7 linked regions of the Homo sapiens genome follow. The protein of the gene in region 1 purifies or fractionates together with the protein of each later gene. This does not show direct contact. Each region holds a gene or a part of one and is shown in the gene's direction. Other genes may lie near its edges. The genes, in order: CDK11A, S100A7, GPATCH2L, ESF1, CTR9, ZNF33A and ARK2N.

Evidence for each region.
Region 2: the proteins of CDK11A (region 1) and S100A7 purify together in Homo sapiens (affinity purification with mass spectrometry; one large-scale study listed by BioGRID and IntAct). This does not show direct contact.
Region 3: the proteins of CDK11A (region 1) and GPATCH2L purify together in Homo sapiens (affinity purification with mass spectrometry, with the first as the bait; one large-scale study listed by BioGRID). This does not show direct contact.
Region 4: the proteins of CDK11A (region 1) and ESF1 purify together in Homo sapiens (affinity purification with mass spectrometry, with the first as the bait; one large-scale study listed by BioGRID). This does not show direct contact.
Region 5: the proteins of CDK11A (region 1) and CTR9 purify together in Homo sapiens (affinity purification with mass spectrometry; 2 studies listed by BioGRID, with this or other methods). This does not show direct contact.
Region 6: the proteins of CDK11A (region 1) and ZNF33A purify together in Homo sapiens (affinity purification with mass spectrometry; one large-scale study listed by BioGRID and IntAct). This does not show direct contact.
Region 7: the proteins of CDK11A (region 1) and ARK2N purify together in Homo sapiens (affinity purification with mass spectrometry; 2 studies listed by BioGRID and IntAct, with this or other methods). This does not show direct contact.

What each region holds. Positions count from the first base shown.
Region 1 is NC_000001.11:1,714,358-1,717,857, reverse strand, and holds part of CDK11A (cyclin-dependent kinase 11A), read left to right. Parts: intron 1-1,379; coding exon 1,380-1,512; intron 1,513-3,500. UniProt on the Homo sapiens protein: Appears to play multiple roles in cell cycle progression, cytokinesis and apoptosis. The p110 isoforms have been suggested to be involved in pre-mRNA splicing, potentially by phosphorylating the splicing protein SFRS7.
Region 2 is NC_000001.11:153,457,852-153,461,820, reverse strand, and holds the start of S100A7 (protein S100-A7), read left to right. Parts: upstream 1-1,169; 5' UTR 1,170-1,213; intron 1,214-2,790; 5' UTR 2,791-2,807; coding exon 2,808-2,948; intron 2,949-3,850; coding exon 3,851-3,969.
Region 3 is NC_000014.9:76,168,922-76,172,421, forward strand, and holds part of GPATCH2L (G patch domain-containing protein 2-like), read left to right. Parts: exon of another isoform or gene 1-2,277; intron 2,278-2,921; coding exon 2,922-3,098; coding exon of another isoform or gene 3,099-3,109; exon of another isoform or gene 3,110-3,500.
Region 4 is NC_000020.11:13,767,920-13,771,419, reverse strand, and holds part of ESF1 (ESF1 homolog), read left to right. Parts: coding exon 1-89; intron 90-1,398; coding exon 1,399-1,513; intron 1,514-3,500. UniProt on the Homo sapiens protein: May constitute a novel regulatory system for basal transcription. Negatively regulates ABT1.
Region 5 is NC_000011.10:10,757,746-10,761,245, forward strand, and holds part of CTR9 (RNA polymerase-associated protein CTR9 homolog), read left to right. Parts: intron 1-2,427; coding exon 2,428-2,576; intron 2,577-3,500. UniProt on the Homo sapiens protein: Component of the PAF1 complex (PAF1C) which has multiple functions during transcription by RNA polymerase II and is implicated in regulation of development and maintenance of embryonic stem cell pluripotency.
Region 6 is NC_000010.11:38,058,131-38,060,587, forward strand, and holds the end of ZNF33A (zinc finger protein 33A), read left to right. Parts: 3' UTR 1-1,957; downstream 1,958-2,457. UniProt on the Homo sapiens protein: May be involved in transcriptional regulation.
Region 7 is NC_000018.10:46,215,534-46,219,033, forward strand, and holds part of ARK2N (protein ARK2N), read left to right. Parts: intron 1-277; 5' UTR 278-347; coding exon 348-1,062; intron 1,063-3,500. UniProt on the Homo sapiens protein: AMPK substrate important for exercise capacity and skeletal muscle function.

The sequences.
Region 1 (3,500 bases):
GACCGTTCAGAGGGGCTATAGAGAGGATACTCTAGCTGAAAGCGTGCGTGTGTCACAGACCGAAAACCAGAGAGAGCAAACTCTAGCTGAAAGCATGCGTGTGTCACAGACCGTTCAGAGGGGCTATAGAGAGGATACTCCAGCTGAAAGTGTGCGTGTGTCACAGACCGAAAACCAGAGAGAGCAAACTCTAGCTGAAAGCATGCGTGTGTCACAGACCGAAAACCAGAGAGAGCAAACTCTAGCTGAAAGCGTGCGTGTGTCACAGACCATTCAGAATGGCTAGTCCATTTTTCCTCTGGGGTTTTCTCTCCCCCATTATATTGTTTGGGAGCAGTTTGTTTACATTTAAAATGACCTGAATTCAACAAGTATAGGAGAAAAACACACCCCAAAATGGGTATTTGCTCAAGTCCAAAGAATGGGTTAGGCTTGAGCAGTTTGATCTCGTACCAACATCAGGAGATTCTTACGGGTGTTAGGAAAATTGGACCTGGAGCCCGATTGAAATCTCATTATTATAAATACGCTTGATTAATTAATGTGGCTTCATTGCACAGTGGAGAAGCCCACTGATAGCAAAGCTTTGTTCTGTAGTCTTTGTGAAGAGTGGTTTTTGTATTATAAAACTGATAATTATAGTTTATTCAGTATAGAAAATTTTTAAAAGATGAATATTACAATTCTCTTCTGTGATAGCAGAATTGTTTTTCTTTTTTCTTCTTTCTTCATAATTAGACGCTTACTGCAGATAGTTTTCTATTTTCAAAGTTTTTTATTTAACATAAAATCATGATTATTCGACTGGGTGCAGTGGCCCAGGCCTGTAATCCCAGCACTTTGGGAGGACAAGGATGGAGGATCACTTGAGCCCAGGAGTTCAAGACCAGCTTGGCCAATATAGTGAGACCCTGTCTCTTCAAAAAAAAAAAAAAAAAGATTAGGATTACTTAACATCATTATTTAAATATTTAATGTTCTTGATTTAATTTCATTTTCATGTGATTTTTTTTTTTTTTTTTTTTTTTTTTTTTTTTTTTTTTGAGATGGAGTCTCACTTTTTCGCCCAGGCTGGAGTGCAGTGGCACGATCTCGGCTCACCGCAACCTCCACCTCCCAGGTTCAAGTGATTCTACAGCCTCAGCCTCCCTTAGTACCTGGGATTACAGGTGCCTGCCACCACGCCCAGCTAATTTTTGTATTTTTAGTAGAGACGGGGTTTCACCATGTTGGCCAGGCTGGTTTTGAACTCCTGACCTCAGGTGATCCACCCGCCTCGGCCTCCCAAAGTGCTGGGATTACAGGCGTAAGCCACCGTGCCCGGCCTCGTGAAATTTTTGAAGTGAGGTTTCTTTGCATGACACTTTATTTCTCATTAGGGAAGCATGCTAGAGTGAAAGAAAGAGAGCACGAACGTCGGAAACGACATCGAGAAGAACAGGATAAAGCTCGCCGGGAATGGGAAAGACAGAAGAGAAGGGAAATGGCAAGGGAGCATTCCAGGAGAGAAAGGTGAGTGGGCTGGGTCAGTTGAGGACTTTATGAAAGGGCCGTGGTAGTGTGTCCTGTCACAGCAATGAAGAAGAATTTGGCAATAGAAGTCACATTTGTTGCAGAAGTGGTAGACATGGAAACAGCACAGTGAACGCTGGACGAGGCTGACCAAGAGAACTGTCCTGAGGGAGTGAGTTTTCACTGCATCTGGAAGTAAGAACGGGTGTGATTTGATTGAGGGAAGACAATGAAGGGATCAGAAATCTGCACGTCCCGCCGGGCGCAGTGGCTCACGCTAGAATTCCAGCACTTACGAGGCTGAGGTGGTTGGATCCCTTGAGCCTGGGAGGTCAAGGCTGCAGTAAGCTATGACCATGCTACTGCACTCCAGCCTGGTTGACAGAGTGAGACTGTCTCAAAAAAAGGAGAAGGGAGATCCCAAAAACCTTGAAACAGTCTGGAAATCGGGACACTGGACTCCTAGGACTCCTGGCCATTAGTCTGTATATTCGTTCCCCTTTATGAGCCAGATTCCCAAGAAAGAACATCGGTGTAGCCCCAGATCTGTTCTGTGAACCAGGAAAAAGGCTGTAGGCCAGGTGCGAGCAGGCCCATCTCCGCCTTCAGAGTGAGTCCACAGAAAGCTTGCAAGCTGCTCCAGGAAGAGAGGAGTCTGAAGCGGAAGGGCGTGTGCAGCGATGTTTGCCAGCAGCCAGGGCTGGGTACACAGCATGTAAAGATGATGAGAGGGCGCTGGTTCTTGTTGATGCCGAAGGGTGTGGGAGACACTGAGGCCCAGGGGTCAAGGTCCGAGACCGCTGCTGGGTGAGCAAGGTTTCAGTTGGCCTAGTTCCTGTTAGTGTGTGAAACATTCATGTATGCCACGCCCTGTGCCAGACATTGAGTGTGTCTTGTCCCACGAGAGTAGAGCTTGGGATAGAAGTGGAGGTTGGTAGATGAAATTTGGGCTGTCATATTGATTTCCCAGAAGGTAAAGACAGGAGAGTGAATGAACAAAAATTGTTGGGGGCAGACTTCTGGGTAGGGCCGATTCAGATCAGCCAATCCAGAACTGGGTGTGGTAGCATATGCTACGTGGGAGGCTAAGGCCAGAGGACCGCATGACGCCAGCCTGGGCAACGTAGAGAGACCTTGTCTCTGACAAAAAGGAAACTGATAAGGATAATCTGAGAAGCACTGATGCTTGGAAAACTGCTGAGCTGTGGGTAAAAGCAGTAAGAATCTGACCTTCTGGCCTGAGAGCTGCTCCCTTTACTGCTTCCACTCTGCACTTGGAAGCACGGAGGTTCCACTGGGACAGGGCAGCTGCAGGACCTGCAGTTTCCTTGCTGCCTTGGAAGGGGTTACTCCGTTTAGAGCAGTGGGCAGTGGCCTTGCCCACCAGCATCCTCAGTGGAGGGAGGAAAAGGCCAAGAGGTCTGCTAGAATGAAGTACAGTGTGGTTGGGAGCAGCTGTGATCCCGCCAAAGACGTGCAGCAGAGACTGGAGAGAGCTCGAGCCGCCACCCACTTGTGACCAGCCCTGAGGATGCAGCTGCGTGAAAGGACCTAGCAGAAAATAGAAGCCGCCACAGATGCGAATGACGCCTGAACGTTCAGTGTGCTCCCTGTCCACACACAGCCGTGGGCCAAGGAAGCCTTACTGTGCTCGAGGTATTTGAGCCCAGCCTTTTTCCAGTGCTGGCTAATTGCTAAGCTGTGCAGCCATGGTGGTGACCCCTAGGAAGCCAAGGTTGAAAATTAAAATAGGCATGTGGGAAGGAACGGGGTGGCCATGAGCTATGAGGGAGATGGATTTCACGGACAACCAGACAGGCCTTGGTGGTAACAACGAAAGGGAAAACTTAGAATCCAGAATTGCTACAAATGTATTATCTAAAATACAAAGAAGTATGACAGTGTGACCCGTACTGAGGAAGAACATCATCAGTAGAAACTGTCTTGAGTGTCCAGATGTTGAATTTAGTAAAGGCTTGGAAACAACT
Region 2 (3,969 bases), about 150 Mb from region 1:
TCCCACCTAGGGAGACATCACATCAGCTCTGTGGAGCCCCAGAGTGCTTAAAGGGCTGGCACTAAATGAACCTGGAACTCTCTTGCACCCTAAAAGGAACATTGCAAGGGGGTAGCAGAAAAAGTCCATTTCAGTGATTCATCATCTCCCTTTCCTCACCATGCCCCAGGGATTCCCATGCCTTCCCAACCCTCTTGCCCCTACCTGGGTCAGCCTTTCCACAGCAGGTTAGGGCACATTATAGCCAAGGGCACAACTCCCAACTCCTACACAGGCTGTTTTGCATAGGAGGAGGAAAAACACTGAAGACTTTCTGGGAAGTTAGTGCCATGGGGCAGGAAAGAACTTTTCCCACTCCCTGCCTCCAGGCTCATTCCATGGGGGGGTCACTCCACCACTCAACCTAGATAGTGAGGCCCCTGACCCCAGTCCCCCCACCTAATTCCAGGGCTTCTGTGAGGGGCTGACCAATGGTTAGCAATGAAGTAACCCTGCTTCCCTCCCTGGACTTTGAGTTCCCATAGGGCAGACCCTGATGTGACCCAAGACCTATAGCACAGGGGATAAGAGTAAGGATTTGATTCAGGCTTTTCTGAGTCCATATAATGATTTGTTGTGTTTACTAGCTGAGTAAACTTGGGAACATCTCAACTTCTCCTTTCCTAAAATAGAGATTGAAGCACCTCTTAGGACTATGAGGGTTGAGGAGGATGCAGGAGCAGCAGGTATCTTGATATCTAGACATTAAAATGCTCAGTCAGCGGTGGGGGTCATAGAACAGGCTGTCATAACAAATGTGTGGAAGGATAAGGGGAGGGAACAAACAAGACCATGCTGCCTTCAGGAGTCTGAAACTCCATCCTCTTTGGGTCCAGAGGCCCAGTGCTCTTTTCTCCCATTTTCTGACCTGCTACTACACATGTACCGCTGCCTTACCCTCAAATCAAGGTTGAGCCAGAGAAGACTCCAGGTGAGGTCTCTGGGGTGGGGTGGGACCTGGTGACCTGGGACACTGGCCAGAAATCCTGAGCACAGCCTCCTGGGTGTGTCCCACCCACCTGATGTGGGGCAAGCCTCCAAGAAACAGATGACAGAGGTGGCCCCAGGCCTCCCAGCCCCTGGGAAGAGCCAGGCTGAGCCTTATAAAGGACTGCTCTTTGTCCAAACACACACATCTCACTCATCCTTCTACTCGTGACGCTTCCCAGCTCTGGTAAGTCTCACCTGCCTCTTTGCGTTTTCTAGAAGTGCCCAGTGCCTGGCCTGCCATGCTGCCTGTAGGAAGGGAAAGGGCTGTGGACAAAGACTCAGAAGCCTGGGTCTAGGCCAGCTCTGCCATTAGCTGGGCTGTGTGACCTTCACTTGACCCCAAAAGCCCACGTCTGTATAACCAGGTGGCTGAACCAGACCTGTCCATTGCTCCTTTGGGATCTCCTGAGGCAACTCCTGTGGAAATGTCCCCAGTGGGACCTGAGCACAGGACCCTCCCTGTCCTCTTCCTCCCTGGATTCATCCTCCTGTTGGGGTCCCGGTTGCTAAATCCCCTCCCCAGCTCCAGCTCCACAGAGGGTGGAGGGCTAGGGGTCCCCTGTGAATGCTTTGGAGGCTCTCCAAACCCCCAGGCCTGGGACCCCGACACAGCATAGCCCTGGCCAGATGGCTTGCCCCTACCTGGGTAAGGTATTGAGAAACCAACGCTCCGTCACTCCCTACCACAACCTGCAAATTGTCAGTCACCCTCTGGGCACAGGGCTTGCCCTCTGGCCTTGGCCTCAGATTCAAAAAAGCTCTGGGTGGCTCCTCTTAGTCAGTTGCCGGCATGGAGCTTTCTCCTGCATTGAGAGGTGTTGGGGGTTTATTGTCAGACACCCATATGCATTAGCCAAGGTCCTTTCCTGGTTCTTTGGAAAGTGTGGGAAGTGAGAACTGCACTGTCCTATTTTTCAGGCTTGGGGTGCAGGCCAGCCCAGACTGACTACTGGCTGAAAGATCTGCTTTGGGAAGTCAGACATTTTTATTTAAACAGTCAAGGCTTGGTGATTCAGAGGGTGCAGATAATTCCCAAGAGCAGACATGAAGTGACTCCCACCTCACTCCCACCCCGTCCAGCAGCTTAAGAACCAGAGAGTTATTTCTGTTCCTTGTAACAGAGGCCATTCCTGTTTCTCGTTCCCAAGGGAATACAAGAAGGGCCCCCTGTGCTCGGGACAGGACTGTGTTTCCTGCTAACACTCACGTCCACGCTCACATGTGCACCTGGAGCCTGCACACACCGTGTCATGCAGGGCTTGCACTTGAGTCAAGGTGGGGCCCACGGTGTCTGGTTCCTGAAGCAGCCGAGGAGGGTCAGACACCAGATCACCAAGGCCATTGTCCTGCCCCCATGACTGTCACCCCGACTGTGAAGCTGGAGGAGATGGATTTGGTGCTCTTTTAAGAGTGGGGTCTGCCATGTGCTGGCTGAGGCTGGGGTGTCCCAGCTTAGTTCTTCCATGTGTTGCTGGCGCCCGACTCTCCCTGCTTCTCCCTCTCTGAAGCACTGTCCACAGCTGGACTTCCGCCATCCACCTGCATCTCCTCTTGGCCCTGGCCAGGATGGGCCAGGTCTCAGACTTGGTCCTACCCTCTCATTTTTGAGCAACTTATCCCATCACATTAAAAAAAAATTGAGTTCGTTCTGCTACACCTTATCCGTGTTTTTACTCTGTCCTCAGCCCTCCTTCCAGCACTCCCAAATAGAGACCCTAACTTAAATGAAGGGAAAAAAATGATTGTCTTTATTTCCTGAAGGCTTTTTGAAAGCAAAGATGAGCAACACTCAAGCTGAGAGGTCCATAATAGGCATGATCGACATGTTTCACAAATACACCAGACGTGATGACAAGATTGAGAAGCCAAGCCTGCTGACGATGATGAAGGAGAACTTCCCCAACTTCCTTAGTGCCTGTGTGAGTCGGTGTCTAGCTTCTCAATGTTGGAGGATACATTTTGCTATGTGGCCTTGGACAGATCACCCTCACCCTCTGATTAAAAAATTTCCCATTTGCAAATAGGGCTTTATTACTTGGATCATATGTGAATCTAAGGATGGTAGGCAAAAAAGTATGAAAATGGGAAAGAGTTATACAGATATAAAGGAGGTTATTAGATGGTCAGCAAAGTGTGCAGCTTGAGGGCAGTGCACAGTCCCCTCCCAGCACTCACTGACCCTCTCTCTGTGAGACTGAAACTCACATGCTCAGGTCCTGTTTCCCAAAGGCCCCACATCAACATCCCTGAGATTACTGGGAAAGCACTAGAAGTTCCATTGTTAGTAGAAATCAATAGCCCTCTTTGCAATAAACAAGACTCATTAGCAAATCTGAAAAAAAACTGTGGGCTACTAGGTACCAAAGGGTCTAGATGACCAAGAGTAGGATACCCAGAAGATGAGTTTGGTGGAAAAGGAGAAGAAAGGAGAGGAGGCCAGAGAAAGAAGAGAACAAAAGCATGAGGGCCAATTTTGAGGCCCTGGGGTAGAACTAAGGTAGGCAGTGCCCTTAGAGGCTGGGACGGGAAAGAGTGAGGCTGGGGCAGGGGACTGCTCTCCCCAAGGTCACTTAACAGAGCACCTTGGGACAGGACCTGCCTCCCATCCTGAGGTGTGAGACAAAAAGACTCCCTAGAGAACTCCAGGGATAACACTCACGTCCTCACCCCAACTTCACCCACTCACCCTGTGCTCTCAGCCCCGCCACCATGCCTGTGCAGATCTAGGTACTTGTCTGTATCTCTGCCTCCTCCTCTCCCTCCCAGCCCAAAACTTGTTTGTGATTGAATTTTTCTATTTTGTATGTTTTTCTCTTCACAGGACAAAAAGGGCACAAATTACCTCGCCGATGTCTTTGAGAAAAAGGACAAGAATGAGGATAAGAAGATTGATTTTTCTGAGTTTCTGTCCTTGCTGGGAGACATAGCCACAGACTACCA
Region 3 (3,500 bases), on another chromosome or scaffold:
GAGGGCCACCACTCTTGTTTGGCAGCCTTCTTTTATAACCACAGTTCTTTGGGTTCTGATAACCATTCTTTCCCTTGCCACTCCAAGTCTAGGAATGGTAAGGGCCTCCTGCTGTGCTGGCTCCACCTGATGTGCTTCACTATCCCCTTGTGGGGTTCCTTGTTAGTACTGTCTCCACCTTTGTGAATAGTCACTTCATTACATCTCTGCAATGACCCCATTTAAATGTGCCATGTGTTTGCTGAGGGGGTTCTGGCCAATAGCCCTTTCTCCTTTGTTCTCTGTGGCTCCTTGTATTATACTTACTGTTTCTTTTACTACTCACTAGATTATGTTATTGTTTGTAGGTACGAGTCTTTTCCCTTGAGGCTTTTCAAGGCAGGACTTATTATGTGCAACCACAGTACCTAGCATGTTCCTGGCATATAGTAAATGTTTAATAAATAATTATTTATAATCCAATTAAGGGGAAAACTCTCCTTTTTTTCCCCCAAACAAAATCGAACATAGATTCTCAGATTGTAAAACAACTAAGCCTATTTGGTTTAAAGCAAAATTCTAGAGGAGCCAGAGGTCAGGAGCCCGATCCACCTAGCTTCTTGCTTATTCCCTGGCAGCGCTCTTTTAAGGAGCTCCTCTATCAGGCATCTTAGTGAACCCTGATTGAAGACTGCTGGTCTATGTGGTCTCACAACGTTCCTTCTAGTTCAGGGAGTCCCTTTTTGTATTATTAAAAATCTTGAATGACTGCTTGAGAACCAAAAAAATTCCATTATAGTTTGCCATTTGTCGTCAGAAAACATGGCCTAATTAAATATACTATTTCAATAAATGGCCTAAGGAATGCTTATGAATAAGAAAAGAATTAATATATTGAAGTACAGAGAAACTAGTTATTATACACTAATGCCTGTATTCAGTTCATCTATGTATCTGGTTTCGTGAGATGCTTTTAGAGTAGCGGTTCTCAAAACGTGGTCCCCAGGCCAGCTTGGCATCATGAGGGAACTTGTTAGAAATACACATTTTTGGTCTTGCCCAGACTAGAATCAGAAACTCTGGAGTAAGGGCTCAGCAGTCCATGTTTTAACAAGCCCTCCTGCTGCTTCAGATGCATGCTCAAAGTTGAGAACTACTGTAAGAGAGACAGCTGTTTGTGGTGTGTTTTTATAAGGGAACACTTTGAGTAACTTTCTTAGTTGTAATATCTCCTGCTTTTCACCAGAATGCAGTTTTCATTGCCCATTTTGGAGATCTCCACAGTGATTTAAGAGTTATTATCCTGCGTGTTAATGACCCATGAATCTCATACTTCATGGGATTGACATTTCTGAGCAACTTGTCTGGAATCCAGTGTACATTAGAGACTGACTACATTATGAACTCTTTAGATATTCTTGTAATAATTTCCTTCAATTTTGCTATTTTGCAAGGGGTATGTGGTGGCAGACATACAATTATCTATTCTTTGTTGGCAGGAATAAACTCTAGTGGAAACTGAGATACTATCACTATAGCCAGTAGAAAGAAGTTTGTACTACCAACAGTCTGGATATATGGATCTGGTTGTGACTTTGCTGTTAATTAACAAATGGCCTTGGGAAAATGGTATAACTTATTGAAAAGCCTTAGGGGATTATGTTATTTGTTGCTGTGGTTATTTTTTTTTTCCGCAGTAGCTTGGATTTCTAGTGTCAAGATGATTTCTGTCCCATTAATGAGATACCAACGATAAATGAAGTATGGACATATATTCTTTATTCACCTTTTATGATAAAGGCAAATATAGCAAGAAATCCCTCAGGTATAGCTAGCTTTGAATTGAGAAACATTTATGGGTTTTGAACCTCCAAGTTTATACCACTGAGAATGGTATAGGGGAGGCAGTTTGTTTTTGTAATAAAGATCTCAGGCTTTTGAGTTAGTCAGGCTTTGGGTTCAGATCCTGGCTTCATTGTTTACTAAATTGACCTTGACTTCTCTAGGCTTTAGTTGCCTTGTTTGTAAGTTGGAGTTAGTGTAGGGCTTGGAAGAGATGACATATTTACAGATTTTTAGCATGGATCCTGGTAGGTTGTAAGGGTTTAGTGAGTGGTAGCTTTATTTATTTATTTTTAGCTATTAAAGCGGTCCAGTCTAACACAGTATGACATTTATGTGAAACCAGGTTGGTGTTCCAGTTTTCATTGTAAAATGAATCAAGAAGGACCAGAACAATGCCTTGATTTATTTAAAAGTATAATCAGCCTGTAATTCCAGCACTTTGAGAGGCTGAGGTGGGTGGGAGGATTGCTTGAGCCCAGGAGTTCAAGAGCAGCCTGGGCAACATAAGGAGACCCAGTTTCTACAGAGAATTAAAAAAAAAAAAAAAGACTGGGCGCGGTGGCTCACGCCTGTAATCCCAGCACTTTGGGAGGCCGAGGCGGGTGGATCAGTTGAGGTCAGGAGTCCAAGACCAGCGTGGCCAACATGGCAAAACCCCGTCTCTACTAAAAAAATACAAAAATTAGCCAGGCATGGTGGCGGGCGCTTGTAATGCCAGCTACTCAGGAGGCTGAGTCAGAGAGAATTGCTTGAACCCGGGAGGGGAGGCGGAGGTTACAGTGAACCAAGATCACGCCACTGCACTCCAGCCTAGGCAACAGAACAAGAATCCATCCCCAAAAAAATAAAAAAATAGCCAGGCATAGTGGCATGAGCCTGTGGTTCCAGCCACTTGGGAGGCTGAGATGGGAGGATTGCCTGAACATGTGATTACGCCACTGCATTCCAGCCTGGGTGACAGAGCAAGACTCTGTCTCAAAAAGGAAAAAAAAAAAAAAGGATGATCAAAACTATGGCACTAAGAAATCATCCCTCCCATTTGTTTTTCTCAGACCTTGTTTAAAATTCTAGCTTATGATATGATGTCTTTACTTTAGGTGATGACGAACAGAGTGATTGGTTCTATGAAGGAGAATGTGTCCCAGGATTCACTGTCCCTAATCTTCTGCCCAAGTGGGCTCCTGATCATTGTTCTGAAGTAGAAAGAATGGATTCTGGATTGGATAAATTTTCAGATTCCACATTCCTTTTACCTTCTCGGCCAGCTCAAAGAGGTGAGTTCTGAGGAGACCAAGAACTTAATGCTTTTATGGTTCTCCTTGGGCAGAGCAATCACCCCCTAGCAAGCATACTCATGCCTTCAATCACACATTAACTATCTGAATTTTGGAGCTAGCTCAAGGATTTTCTAGAGGAGTCAAAGTAAGTCTCAAAGCTTAAGGTTCTCTCCATTCCTTCCTAAACTAATCCATGGAAACTCCTGGGACATATATATTATCAGGAGATTCCTTCAGCTTGCCATTGCCGTTTGTGCCAGATTTAGTGACAGCTGCTTATCCTGATGTGAAACTAAGAGGTTATTGAGTATCGGATTTTGGAAGAGAACAGATTTCAATAAGAACATTCACATACATATTCTTATTTTCAGTAAGAGTATTCACATATAATGGTGTTTT
Region 4 (3,500 bases), on another chromosome or scaffold:
GACTGTGATTCTCCGGAAACAGCTAGTAAAATTTATGAGGATTGTGATGGCCTGGAATTTGAAAGTAGTTGTTCTTTCATAGATCTAAGGTAATCCAGTGTATGTATTACCAATTTAATCTTTTAGTACAACATGATTATAAGAAGTAAAATATTTGAACTGGTAGTGATCTCTGTTTTATATTCTAAAATGATTTTTTTGCTTTTCGGTTAACTCTATCCCATGGAACATCACTCCTAAGAAAGAAAACAAACAAGACAGTGCTAAAGTATTATGTATGAATCATCCCCACATCTTTGTCCTTTCAGACATATTGGCTCTGTTTTTAAGATGGTGTACCTTACACAATAATATTTCCTTGCAACTGCTTTTAGAGCTAGGAACCAGATGAAGTTAACTTTTAAAAATGCATGGAGGAAGGGGCAGAGGAATTTGAAAACAGATTGTTATCTCTAGATCCATGCTATCCAGTATAGTAGCCACTAGTCATATTTGGTTATTTTAGTTAAAATTTATAAGTCAGTTGCGTAGTCATATTTCAAATAATTGTTCCATTTTGGACAGAGCAGATATAGAACATTGCCCTTGTCACAGAAAGTTCTGTTGGACAACACTGCTCTAAATGTAAATGGCTAAATGTACAATTAGGAAATTGTAAGACTCAACCTTAAGCTTTCCCTTGTTTTCAGTGACACCTCATGTATATGATACTTTGTATTCACAATGCTTACCCATTAATAATTATATTTGATCTTCAAAATACAATATAGCCAGCTGGGCATAGTAGCTCACGCCTATAATCCCAGCACTTTGGGAGGCCTAGGCAGGAAGATCGCTTGAACCCAGGAGTTCAAGACCAGCCTGGGCAACATAGTGAGACCCTGTCTCTACAAAAAATTTTAAAAGTAAAAATTAGCCAGGCATGTTGGCGCACACCTGTAGAGGATCGCTTGAGCCCAGGCCGTTGAGACTTCAGTGAGCCATGATTATGCCATGGACCTCCAACCTGGGTGATGGAGCAAGACCCTCTCTGTAAAAACAACAACAAAATCATGTAGTCAATGACTGCACTATCAGAAGTCTGGATCTTTTTGAAACGTGAGGGACCCACATGTGCTTGCACCTGACTCATTAACTGACTCCTAATGCACGATTTCTATCTATACAGCATTCTTTTAAATTTAGTGGAATTACAGAGTTATAGCTTATGAATTTCAGAAATTTATACAAAGATGAATTCATTCAGAAATATACAAAGGTTATGTCTAACATTGTCTCTTAAACGTGTGTCTTTTAGAAAGTTTGTGTATGTATAAACTACAACTAATTAGATGAGAATCTAAACTGTGGTTATCACTGCAGCGTATTTTAAATAAATTTTTTTTCTTTACTTCTTAGGTTTATACCAGATGATATTACTTTTGATGATGAGCCTAAGGATGTAGCCTCAGAAGTGAATTTAACAGCATATAAACCAAAATATTTCACTTCTGCTGCAATGGGAACATCAACGGTATTTCTTTACTTTAAAAAATATGTAGCTGGACTCTATTGCTTTATGAAGAGATTTTGTATATTACTTATAGCATCTTTAAAAATGGAAAGTATTAATTTTTTTGTTATTATTTTTTCTTGAGACAGAGTCTCGCTCTCTCACCCAGGCTGGAGTGCAGTGGTATGATCTCAGTTCACTGTAACCTCTGCCTCACAGGTTGAAGCGATTCTCGTGCCTCAGCTGCCCAAGTAGCTGGGATTACAGGTGTGTACCACTACACCTGGCTAATTTTTGTATTTTTACTAGGGACAGTGTTTCGCTATGTTGACCAGGCTGGTCTTGAACTCCTGACCTCAAGTGAGGCCGCCTTGGCTTCCCAAAGTGCTGGGATTACAGGTTTCGTGAGCCACTGCTCCCAGCCTCAAAGTATTCAAAATTTTTAATGCATGGGTACAGAGAGAAATGAGACACAAGCGTGTCTGCCTCTACCATATCTGTGAACCTGTTTTCAGATTCTTGTTACGCATTTAAGCCTGTGTCAGTTATCTGCTGATGTTTCTTTTTTCTCTTCTGTCTTTCCTGTACACTCTTCTGTCTCTCCTATACACTCTTCTGTCTTTCCTATACACTCTAATAAATCAGTTATTAATATCCTAAGGAATAAGGGGAAGTGGATAATAAATTACCTCCCCGCACAGTTAAATGAAACTAGGGAAAATTTAAAATAAGAGTATCTCCTATACACTCTAATACATCAGTTATTAATATCCTAGGGAATAAGGGGAAGTGGATAATGAATTACCTCCCAGCACAGTTAAACAAAACTAGTGAAAATTTAAAATAGGAGTACCTTTTTCTGCAGATGATTCAAAACTGTAAAAAGAATTGATATGGAATAATTAAGGTATAATAGATGTCACATTAATGCTTAGTAACAAATAGCCAAAAGGTTTTTGTCTATTGAAATAGTTTATTACTTAGGTGACTACCTTCTCCCTTTTCCTTTCTTTCTTTTTTTTTTTTTTTTGAGACTAGAGTCTTGCTCTGTCGCCCAGGCTGGAGTGCAGTGGCGCGATCTCTGCTCACTGCAACCTCTGCCTTCTGGGTTCAAGTGATTCTTCTGCCACAGCCTCCCCGGTAGCTGGGATTACAGGTGTGTGCCACCACACCCAGCTAATTTTTGTATTTTTAGTAGAGACTGGGTTTCACCATGTTGGCCAGGCTGGTCTTGAACTCCTGAGCTCAGATGATCCGCCCCCCTCTGCCTCCCAAAGTGCTGGTATTATAGGTGTGAGCCACTGCGCCTGGCCCCTTCTCCCTTTTCTTTTTTTTTGCTTTTTTTGGAGACTGAGTCTCACTCTGTCGCCTAGGCTGGAGTACGGTGGTGCAATCCTGGCTCACTGCAACCTCTGCCTCCCAGGTTCAAGTGATTCTCCTGCCTCAGCCTCCTGAGTAGCTGGGATTACAGGGGCACGCCACCATGCCCAGCTAATTTTGTATATTTAGTACAGACGGGGTTTCACCATGTTAGTCAGGCCGATCTCGAACTCCCAACCTCTGGTGATCCACCCGCCTTGGCCTCCCTTCTCCTTTTTCTTTCTCCCAATAACCTTTCTGTCCACAGCTGTACTCTGCAGTAGCCACACTAGCTTCCCTCTGCTTTTCCTGTGTGATAAATCACCGTGCTTCTCTGAGGAGGGACTGGTAGCAGAGAGAGTAGCTGTATCTGCCACCTGCTATGCCGTGGTGGGCACTGTATGGCATTGATTAGTTACTGGGTGTAGTAAAACTCTACCATTACATAGTAAGCAAAGTCTAAAAAATTCAGTCACATGAAATTAAAGTCATGTTATTTTCAGAACCAACATAATGATCAGGGCCAGCCTGTCCAGCCAGCCAGTCTAAAGTTCCTGGGTCCTGGCTGTATCATCAACATCTGTCCTAGTTCCAACAGTGTTTTGGTGGTTATCAGCTCAGGCTTAATTGTCAGAATAGGGATCATTTC
Region 5 (3,500 bases), on another chromosome or scaffold:
CCTGCCCTCATGGAGTCCAGTTTTCAGTGGGCAAGATAAATAGTAAAGTATGTATGATGTGTAAGCTACCAGTAAGAGCCAAGGAGAAGAATAAAGCAGAAAAAGGGTATGAGAAGCATCAGGAATTGCTTAGAAAGGATGACCAAGGAAACTCATCAGAGATAGTGACATTTGTGTGAAGACCTAAAAAACAACTAGCAGCCATGCAGATATATAGGAGAAGACCACTCCTAGAGAGAGAGCATAGAAGGTACAAAGGTCCAGAGGAAAGAGAGTGCCTGGTAAGTTTAAGGAAGAGTAAGGAGGCCATTGTTTCTGGAATAGAGAGAGAAAGAGTTGGGGGGAAAGTAGTAAGAAATGGGGTCAAAGCTATAACCAGGGACTGACTAATCACGTAGGGCATCACAGATTATTGTAAGGACTTTAGTTTTTACATCGACAGAGATGGGAAGCCATTGGAGGGCCTTGGGCAGCAGAGTGACGTGATCTGACCTATATTTAAAAGGTTCGTTTGAGCTTTGGGGTTGAGACTAGAGTGGGGCTCAAGGGGAGGGGGTCAAGGACAGAAGTAGGGAGAGCAGGGAGAAGGCATCTGCAGACAGGCAGGTCAGAGGTGATTGTGGCTCACACTAGGGAGGTAATAGTGGAGTTGGTACAAGTGGTCAGATTCTACATGTATTTTGAAAGGAGAGCTGATGGAGTACCTATGATGTATAAGACAGAGAGGAAGAGTCAAAGATAACTCCCTTGCACAAGCAATTGGAAAAGTAGAGTTATATTTTACTATATTTGGGAAATAGTTTAAGTGGAACTAGTTTTAGACCTGAAAAGTTTGAAATACCTTTTAGACATATAAGTTGTCAAATTAAGCAGTTCAGCCTTAAAGCTTTTAGAGCTTTATCCTGAGCCTTGAGAAGAATGTGGCTATACAACCTGAGTCACGTGGCATGCAGTTGCAATTTCTGCCTTTTTTTTTCTGTAAACAATTAAGATCAAATGGTGCCAGAAATAAGATCCCCCTCACATGGAGCAATAAAATAATCTTTTTAGAATATAGCAATTTGTAACCAATCAAATTGCTGTGACATAGGCACCTGGTGTTATATTTTAGAATGTTACAATCCTACTAGAACTTCTCTATTTCCCCCAAATAATTAAAACCTTAACTTTTTCACTTTGGAAAATGCTGATATCATTCATTTGGAGTCAGTACTTTTCTGGTGGCCATTCTTACACCTTGCACTCCAATACACTCTATACTTAATCATATTTTCCAAATCCCGTTATTTAAAATTGACAAAGTGAAGACAGCAGAAAGGCTGGAATTCAGGAAAGAGGTCTGGGCTGAAGTCATCAACATATAGATAGTGTATAAAGCTGTGAATGAGTGCAAATAGAAAAGAGGTCTAGAGGTGGAGCCCTAGAGCACTCTGATATTAAGAGATTAGGGAAATGAGGAAGAATCAGCAAAGGAGACTGAGAAGATAATAGCCAGAGGTATAGGAGGAAAATAGGGTAAGTGCATTGTCTTTAAAGGCAAATGTAAAATGTTTCCAGAAGAAGATGATGACCAACAGTGTCAAATTCTGTTGTTAGGTCAAGTAAAATAGGGACACAGAATTGATCATTGGATTTAGCACCATACAAATCCATAGTGACCTTGATAAAAGCAGTTTTACTGGAATGGTGGGGTGAGAGCTTCACTGGAGTGTATTCAAGAGAAAATGGAAGGAAGGGAATTAGACATAGCAAGCGTAGCTAGATCATTCTGGGAGTTTTGCTATTGAAGAACAGACATGATCGACAACTGGAAAGGGATATAGAATCAAGAGAGGATTTGTATAAGATGGCAGAACGTTTATGTGTAGATGAGAATGAATGATCCAGTAGAGAGAAAAAATAGGGGAGGGTTGCTGGAGCAGTATTCTTAAATAGATAAGAGGGCATCTAGTGACCAGTATGGTGATTGGCTTTAGATGGGAACTTGTTTGTGTTTTGGCATGGCCTTAAATGAGGTAGCACATATGAGCATAGCTTTGAAAGGAACAATGGTATGTGCCCATAATCAGTCATATTATTTAAGGTCTTAGTGGAACTTTTGTTCTCTGTTTAAAAATTGTTCTTCAATAATGAGAAATTGAAGGTATGGTTAGCAGCGATGTTAGAAGACAAGAAGAATACCAGTATTATAGGTGTTCTGTTCTATAGTGAGAAATGTGTCAGTGATAGAGGAGAGGGTTGGAATATGGTATGATGTAGCCTCCAAGGAAACCAAGTTTGTGATAGGTCAAAAGATTCTGTAGTGTAGTTATACTGAGGTTAATTTTGGGGATTTTGCAACTCATAAATAGAGAATGTTTAAGCATTTTTGTAATTGAACTCTAAAAAATGCCCTAGTTTGATAGATTGAATGACTTCATTTTATAGCGGAAGTTCGTTTAGGAATGGGTCATTGCTTTGTGAAACTTAACAAACTGGAAAAAGCTCGTCTGGCATTCAGCAGAGCCCTGGAACTCAATTCCAAATGCGTGGGAGCATTGGTTGGACTGGCTGTTCTAGAACTCAACAATAAAGAGGTATGTAAATGAAAAAAGTATCTAGCTCCTAACTGCTTTGTCAGGCCCACAGCCTCTTATCTAAAACTCTTGGAGCCAGATGTGTCTTAGAAATTAAGATTACAGATTACAGAAGGGTACCTGTACTTTGTAATGTATAACACCTAGTTATTGGGGCACTACCCCAAAAGCAAACTTATATTTCTGTGGCAAAATGATAGACTGTTTACACTAGTAGGATAGGGTTACAATTCAGGTAGTATTGCCACCAAATAAGTTTGCTCCAAGATTACCAAAAAAAAAAAAACAGAAAACAAAACTTGTTTTTTAAGGCATTTAGATTTCAGAATCTCAGATAAGGGGTCGTAGACTTGTATATCAGTTTGGAATGCTTTCATTGCACGTAACAAAAAACACATCCCAGTGCCTTAAACATAAGGGCTTTTAGTGTTTACTAAACCAGTTGTCAAAGGTCTCAAATTTGATAGGTCCTTGTCGTCAAACCTATGATTTTATATAATTCCGTCCTCCCTTCCTTAATGTGCAGCCTTTCTTCATCATGTCTGTCACCTTATAGTCACAAGATGGCTGCAGCATCTCCAGCTTCTCATTATTACATCGGTCTTATAAAGAGGGAGGAAAGAGAAAGGATAAAAAGGCTTTCTCTTAGAGAAGCCCTGTCTTATATTGAGAAGGAAGCTCTCCATCATGCTTCCCCTTATGTATAATTGTCCAAAACAGGGATACCTGGGTTTCTCAGCCTCAGTACTATTGATGTTTTGGGCTGGATAATTCTTTGTTGTGGGGAACTGTCCCTTCCATTATAGAATGTTTTAACAGCATCCCGGGCCTCTACCCACTAAATGCCGATAGCGTTCCTCCAATTGTGATAACCAAACATGACTTCATCCCCAGTTGAGAACCACTACCTTAGGCCAGAGGAAA
Region 6 (2,457 bases), on another chromosome or scaffold:
TAACCTGAAAAAACATTAGAGTAAAAATCATTGAAATTGAAAAGAGAAAATCGATAAAACCCAAAACTGGTTCCTTGAAAAGGTCAGTAAAATTGATAAACCTCTAGCTAGCTTAAGAACAAACAGAAGACAAATATTGCTAATACCAAAAATGAAAGAGGCCATCACAGCTAATCCTATGGTCACCAAAAGGATTAGAAAGAAACATGGACAACTCTGTCCATAAATTTGATAACTTAGCTAAAATGGACCAATTCCTTGCAAGACGCATTCTCTCAAAGCTCACACAAGATAGACCTCAATAGGCATATGTATCTATTAAATAAACCAAAGCAGTAATTAATAACCTTCCAAGGCCAGGTACAGTGGTTCATGCCTGTAATCCCAGCACTTCACTTTGGGAGGCTGAGGCGGGTGGATCACAAGGTCAGGAGTTCGAGACCAGCCTGGTCAACATGGTGAAACCCCCTATCTACTAAAAATACAAAAAATTAGCTGGGCATGGTGGCATGCGTGTGTAGTCGAAGCTACTCAGGAGGCTGAGGCAGAAGAATCACTTGAACCTGGGAGGTGGATGTTGCAGTGAGCTGAGATTGTGCCACTGTACTGCAGCCTGGGTGACAGAATGAGACTGCATCTCAAAAAATAATAATGAAACTTTCCAAAACAAAGTGCCAGGACCAGCTGGGTTCACTGATGTGTTTTTGAGATACTTAAGGTAGAAATGATACCAAGTCTCTACCATCTCTTTCAGAAAATAAAAGCAGAGATAACACTTCCCAACTCATTTTGTGAGGCCAGTATTACCCTAATAGCAAAACCAGGCAAAGATATTACAAGAAAGGAAAACTACAGATCAATATTTCCATTGAACACAGATGCAGAAATCCTCAAAATATTAGCAAATCAGGAATGCAAGGCTTGTTCAACATTTGATATTCAGTGTAATCCATTGCATGCATTAGCAGCTCAAAGATGAAATACGATCATATCAATAGGTACAGAAAAAGCATTTGACAAAATCCAATATCCATTCATGTTAAAACCTCTCAACACAGAAGGAATACAGGAGAACTTACTCAAGTTGGTAAAGAACATACTACAAAAAACCCTACAGCTAACATTATCCTTGATGTTTCCAACTAGACACTTTCCTACTAAGATCAGGAACATGGCAAGGAACACCACACCACTGCTTTTCAGCATTGTACTGGAAGTGCTATATAATGCAGTGTTAAAAAAAAAAGAAATAAAATGCACATAGATTTGAAAGGATGAAATACAACTTTGTTCACAAGTAACATGATTGTCTTTGTAGAGAATTCTAAATAACAAAAACCCTGCTGACATTAATAAGCAATTACAGCAGGATTGCAGGATACAGTCCTCAGGTAGATGATAAAAAGGAATTGGACATCAAGTCATTAAAAGACACGGAGAAACCCTAAATGCTTATTGTTAAGTGAAAACCAATCTGAAAAGGCTTTCTATTTTGTATGATTGCAATTATATGACATTTTGGGAGAGGCAAAACTATTGAGCCAGTGAAAGGACCAGTGGTTGCTGAGAGTTGAGGGGAAAGGAGGGATGGCAGGTAGAGAGGTGATTTTTAAGGCAGTGAAAGTACTCTCTAGGGTACTGTAATTTGTCAAAACGCAGAGAATGGAAAACAGTGAACGGAAAACACAGAGTAAACCCTAATGTCAACTCTGGACTTCAGTTAATAATAATGTATCACTGTTGGCTCATTAATTGTAACAAATGAACCATAATGATGCAAGATGTTAATGATTGGGGAGCCTGTGGAAGATGGGAGGGGAAAGGGTTATATGAGAATTCTCTATACTTTTTGCTCAACTTTCTGTAACCCTAAAGCTACTCTAAAAAATGAAGTGTATCAAGTAAATAAATAACCAACCAACCAACCCTGAGGAACATCTTGTTTCTGTACTAAGGTGTTCTTTTGTTAGTTGTATGTTTCTGACTGAACATGTAAATCATCATTAGTGAACAATTGAATTGCTTTTGTACATCCTTAATATATTTTAAATTATGGTAACTGTGACCTGAAATTAAGGACTAGTATTTTTGGTTCTCTTGACATCTGAAGCCAATAGGGCCTCAAATGACCTAACCTCATTTCCATCCCCACTCTGCTTCCACAGGTGAGGTAACTTAGCAGACAGTCCTCCTTGTCAGGGGGGCCAGGCACAATTCCTGCTTATTCCTAAGTAGTAAGATTTGCTTCCCTGCCAGCTCTTGGAATTATCACCAAACCCCTCACATCCTCCCACAGCAAACAGTGGTCACTGTACTCTGGATAATACAGCTGCTCGCCACAACCCCTCCTTTTCCACTCTGCTCCCTAGTCGAACCCTGTGTGGCTCTTCCCAGCATGTGGTGTCCTTCTCACCTTTCTGAGAGTTGGTGTGACTGACAAACTCACCTAGATCTTAT
Region 7 (3,500 bases), on another chromosome or scaffold:
TAAATAAAATTGTAAACTTGAAAATGTTCATTACATGTTGGCCTTTCAAGTTAGAGGATTAATATTATGGCATTTTTAGTAGCTCAGTATGCTTAGATTTTGACCGTATTAAGTCCTTTGAATTTGACTGTTGATCAAACAAGCAGATAATAATATATATATATTTTAAAGGCCTGTGTAATAGTAAGTTTTGCCCCACCCACTTAGAAAGGTAGGCATGTTGTGTTGACTAAATAATCTGGCATTCTGTTTATTGACTTTGTGTGTTTTTGTACAGGTTGCTTTCCTGTTGCATCTTTGATATCATTTCCTAGACTCTACTCCATGATTTAACTTGAAATTCTGAAATGAAGATGGAGGAGGCAGTGGGAAAAGTTGAAGAACTCATTGAGTCCGAAGCCCCACCAAAAGCATCTGAACAAGAGACAGCCAAGGAGGAAGATGGATCTGTAGAACTGGAATCTCAAGTTCAGAAAGATGGTGTAGCGGATTCTACAGTTATTTCTTCAATGCCCTGCTTGTTGATGGAACTGAGAAGGGACTCTTCTGAGTCTCAGTTAGCATCCACAGAGAGTGACAAGCCTACAACTGGCCGAGTTTATGAGAGTGACTCCTCTAATCACTGCATGCTTTCCCCTTCCTCTAGTGGTCACCTGGCTGATTCAGATACGTTGTCTTCCGCAGAAGAGAATGAACCCTCTCAGGCAGAAACGGCGGTAGAAGGAGACCCTTCAGGAGTGTCTGGTGCCACAGTTGGGCGCAAGTCTAGGCGGTCCCGATCTGAAAGTGAAACTTCCACTATGGCTGCCAAGAAAAACCGGCAATCCAGTGATAAACAGAATGGCCGAGTCGCCAAGGTTAAAGGTCATCGGAGCCAAAAGCACAAGGAGAGGATCAGGCTACTGAGGCAGAAACGGGAGGCTGCTGCAAGGAAGAAATATAACCTGCTGCAGGACAGTAGTACCAGTGATAGTGACCTGACTTGTGACTCAAGCACGAGCTCATCAGATGATGATGAAGAGGTTTCAGGGAGCAGCAAGACAATCACTGCAGAGATACCAGGTAGAGGATGTTTTTTAAACTGACTGTAAAGTACCTGATGGCATTTCTCAGCTATCAGGTTCAGTTAGATGAGTGACACTTGAAAAAATCCAGGAGACCTGCAGCTCTGTGTAAATTTGAAGACTGCAGTCTATTAACAAGACATGGCCAATTTATAAAACCTGTTCTGAGGTTTCCAGTGAACTTTAGCACATCAGGAAAAACAAAATTAAAGGGTTAATGATAGGGACAAGATTATTTTTAAGTAATGGAATTTCTCATAAGTCTGTCTGTAACACATTACCTGAACTCCCAATCATTGCCTTTTTGGCACTGCTTAGATTTAATACTCACTGTTCGGCATCATTACTGAGTACATTCTCCTCAGGAATAGGCACCTTGCTTTATTATATAGCCACTGCACTTGAGCTTATAGTGTCTGAAATAACACATTCTATCTTTTGTTAAAGTTTTCTAATAATTTTTCCTCCAAAAACAGTAGTTTTATGTGTTTCCCCCATATTCAATGCATGAGAAGCTAGTTATCCTTGTTACAAATCTTTCTATCCTCACGTTGAAAAGAATGTCTTTCTGAAAAATTTCCCATTAGTTCCCCAAGTTTTAAAAAAGTTTGTTAGAAATCCGCTTGTTCTAGCTCTCATTGGTATAAGGGTCTGTAACTTATTACATATTTGGTAAATCTGCTTTCCCCATTCTTATTGCATCTGGTACTGTGTACTATAATACAAAGGCAGTCTTGAGATTTCATAGTGGAAGAAAGATGTATCTGAATGGTTCTTAAGTAGTGAATTCTTATTATCCAAGAGATCCTTACAATATGATCAGGAACATTTTGTAAACTGTATGGCATTGAATAGGTCATGGCAGTATTGTTTATTGCCACATTGAAGAGGGGCAAGTTTGGGTTTTCTAAAGTTTTATGGGTGACTATGTTTTTTCTCTCCCTGTTTTCTGAAAGCTTTCTGTTTCTACATGTGAAGACAGCATATTGCTGATATACAAAGAACATTTCAAGAGAAATCATATTGGTTAATGGAATCTATAGCTTCCCAAACTTATATAAATTCAGTAACAAGAATGATTGGTTTTAAAGCACTTTATAGGTGTTCAAGTTCTGATAATAAGTCTTGTCCATATAATATAAATATGAGTCTCAAACGATCTTTAGAAATGCTTTTTACTGTTTTAATATCTCTATTGGATTCCTTTGCTATTGTTCCTTGTAATAAAACTACCGGGAGGGGGATTTCAATGAAGCTCATCAGTTAAATGTATGAGAGAAACAGACTTTGGGGTTGTTCTAAGGCAGGTTTTAGGTATATATTTTAGTTTTACATGTATTAATATTTTTAAAAAAACCTTATTAATACCTGTAAAATTGTGCATTCCTATATCCTCTTCTAACCTCTTAATCAAGACCTTGATGGAACTCTTAATACAATACTTACTTCCACTTACTAAGCAGGATTTTATGTAACTACCCCAATACTTTGCCTTTTTGTGGAAAGGAAGAAGGTGGGTAAACAAAATTTAAAGTCAGAACCCTATTGTAAGGTGGCTTGAGAAATGTCTTCATAGGCACTTTCCCTGTTTTGCTTAAATAGGTTAGATGTGCTTTGTTCATATTTTCCTAATCTTCTTTCTAATTGAGTATCTTGACCACTGCTTAAAACTTAAAACACCAGTGTCTGTTTCTTGTCTCTTCTGAATTGTGTACTAACTGAACACCAAAGTAAATTAATTTGAATCTATAGTTTGGTTTCTATTGTTCACACCATTTAGTAACTTTGTGGCTTTTGAAAATACACATAGTTTTCTAAGGTAATCCTGGAGAATCAAATGGTAGATTGAGGTACAGGGTCACTGTATGTGACTGCCTGTGTGTGTGCTGGCAGTTTTGGGAGGTCTTATGGTATACCTGCCATTCCCATAAGACAGGTATGAATGATCTTTACTGGAATTATGCAAAGCAGCAAAAATGGAACAACTTAGAGTTCAAATATTAGGAATTTCATTTCAATTGTCCATATTGTTGTCTCTTGAAAAATTGTGACATTGTGAATTTTTAATGTAACAGTGATGTATCTTTCAGTTTACTGAGTCACCTTATGACTTTGGGGAAGAGAGGAGGCACGTTCAACCTTATAGTAAGAGCAGTTGTCGAAAAGTTGCCTAAATTGTAAAGGTAGGATAAATTATGAACTGACTTGAGTTCAACAACATGGACATTCAGGTGAACTTAAGCTGGATGGGCCTAACAGAATCTCTTGGATGTCGGAATGTTAATTCAGCTGTTTACACAGAATGGAAACCAAGTGGAAAAGTAAAAACCGATTATTGCCATACTCTTTCATTAAGGTACAACCAATTTAGTAATTCAGAAAATGCTCTTTATAAGCTTTTGTTTGGGCTCAGCTTAAAAGTTGAAGGCATTATCC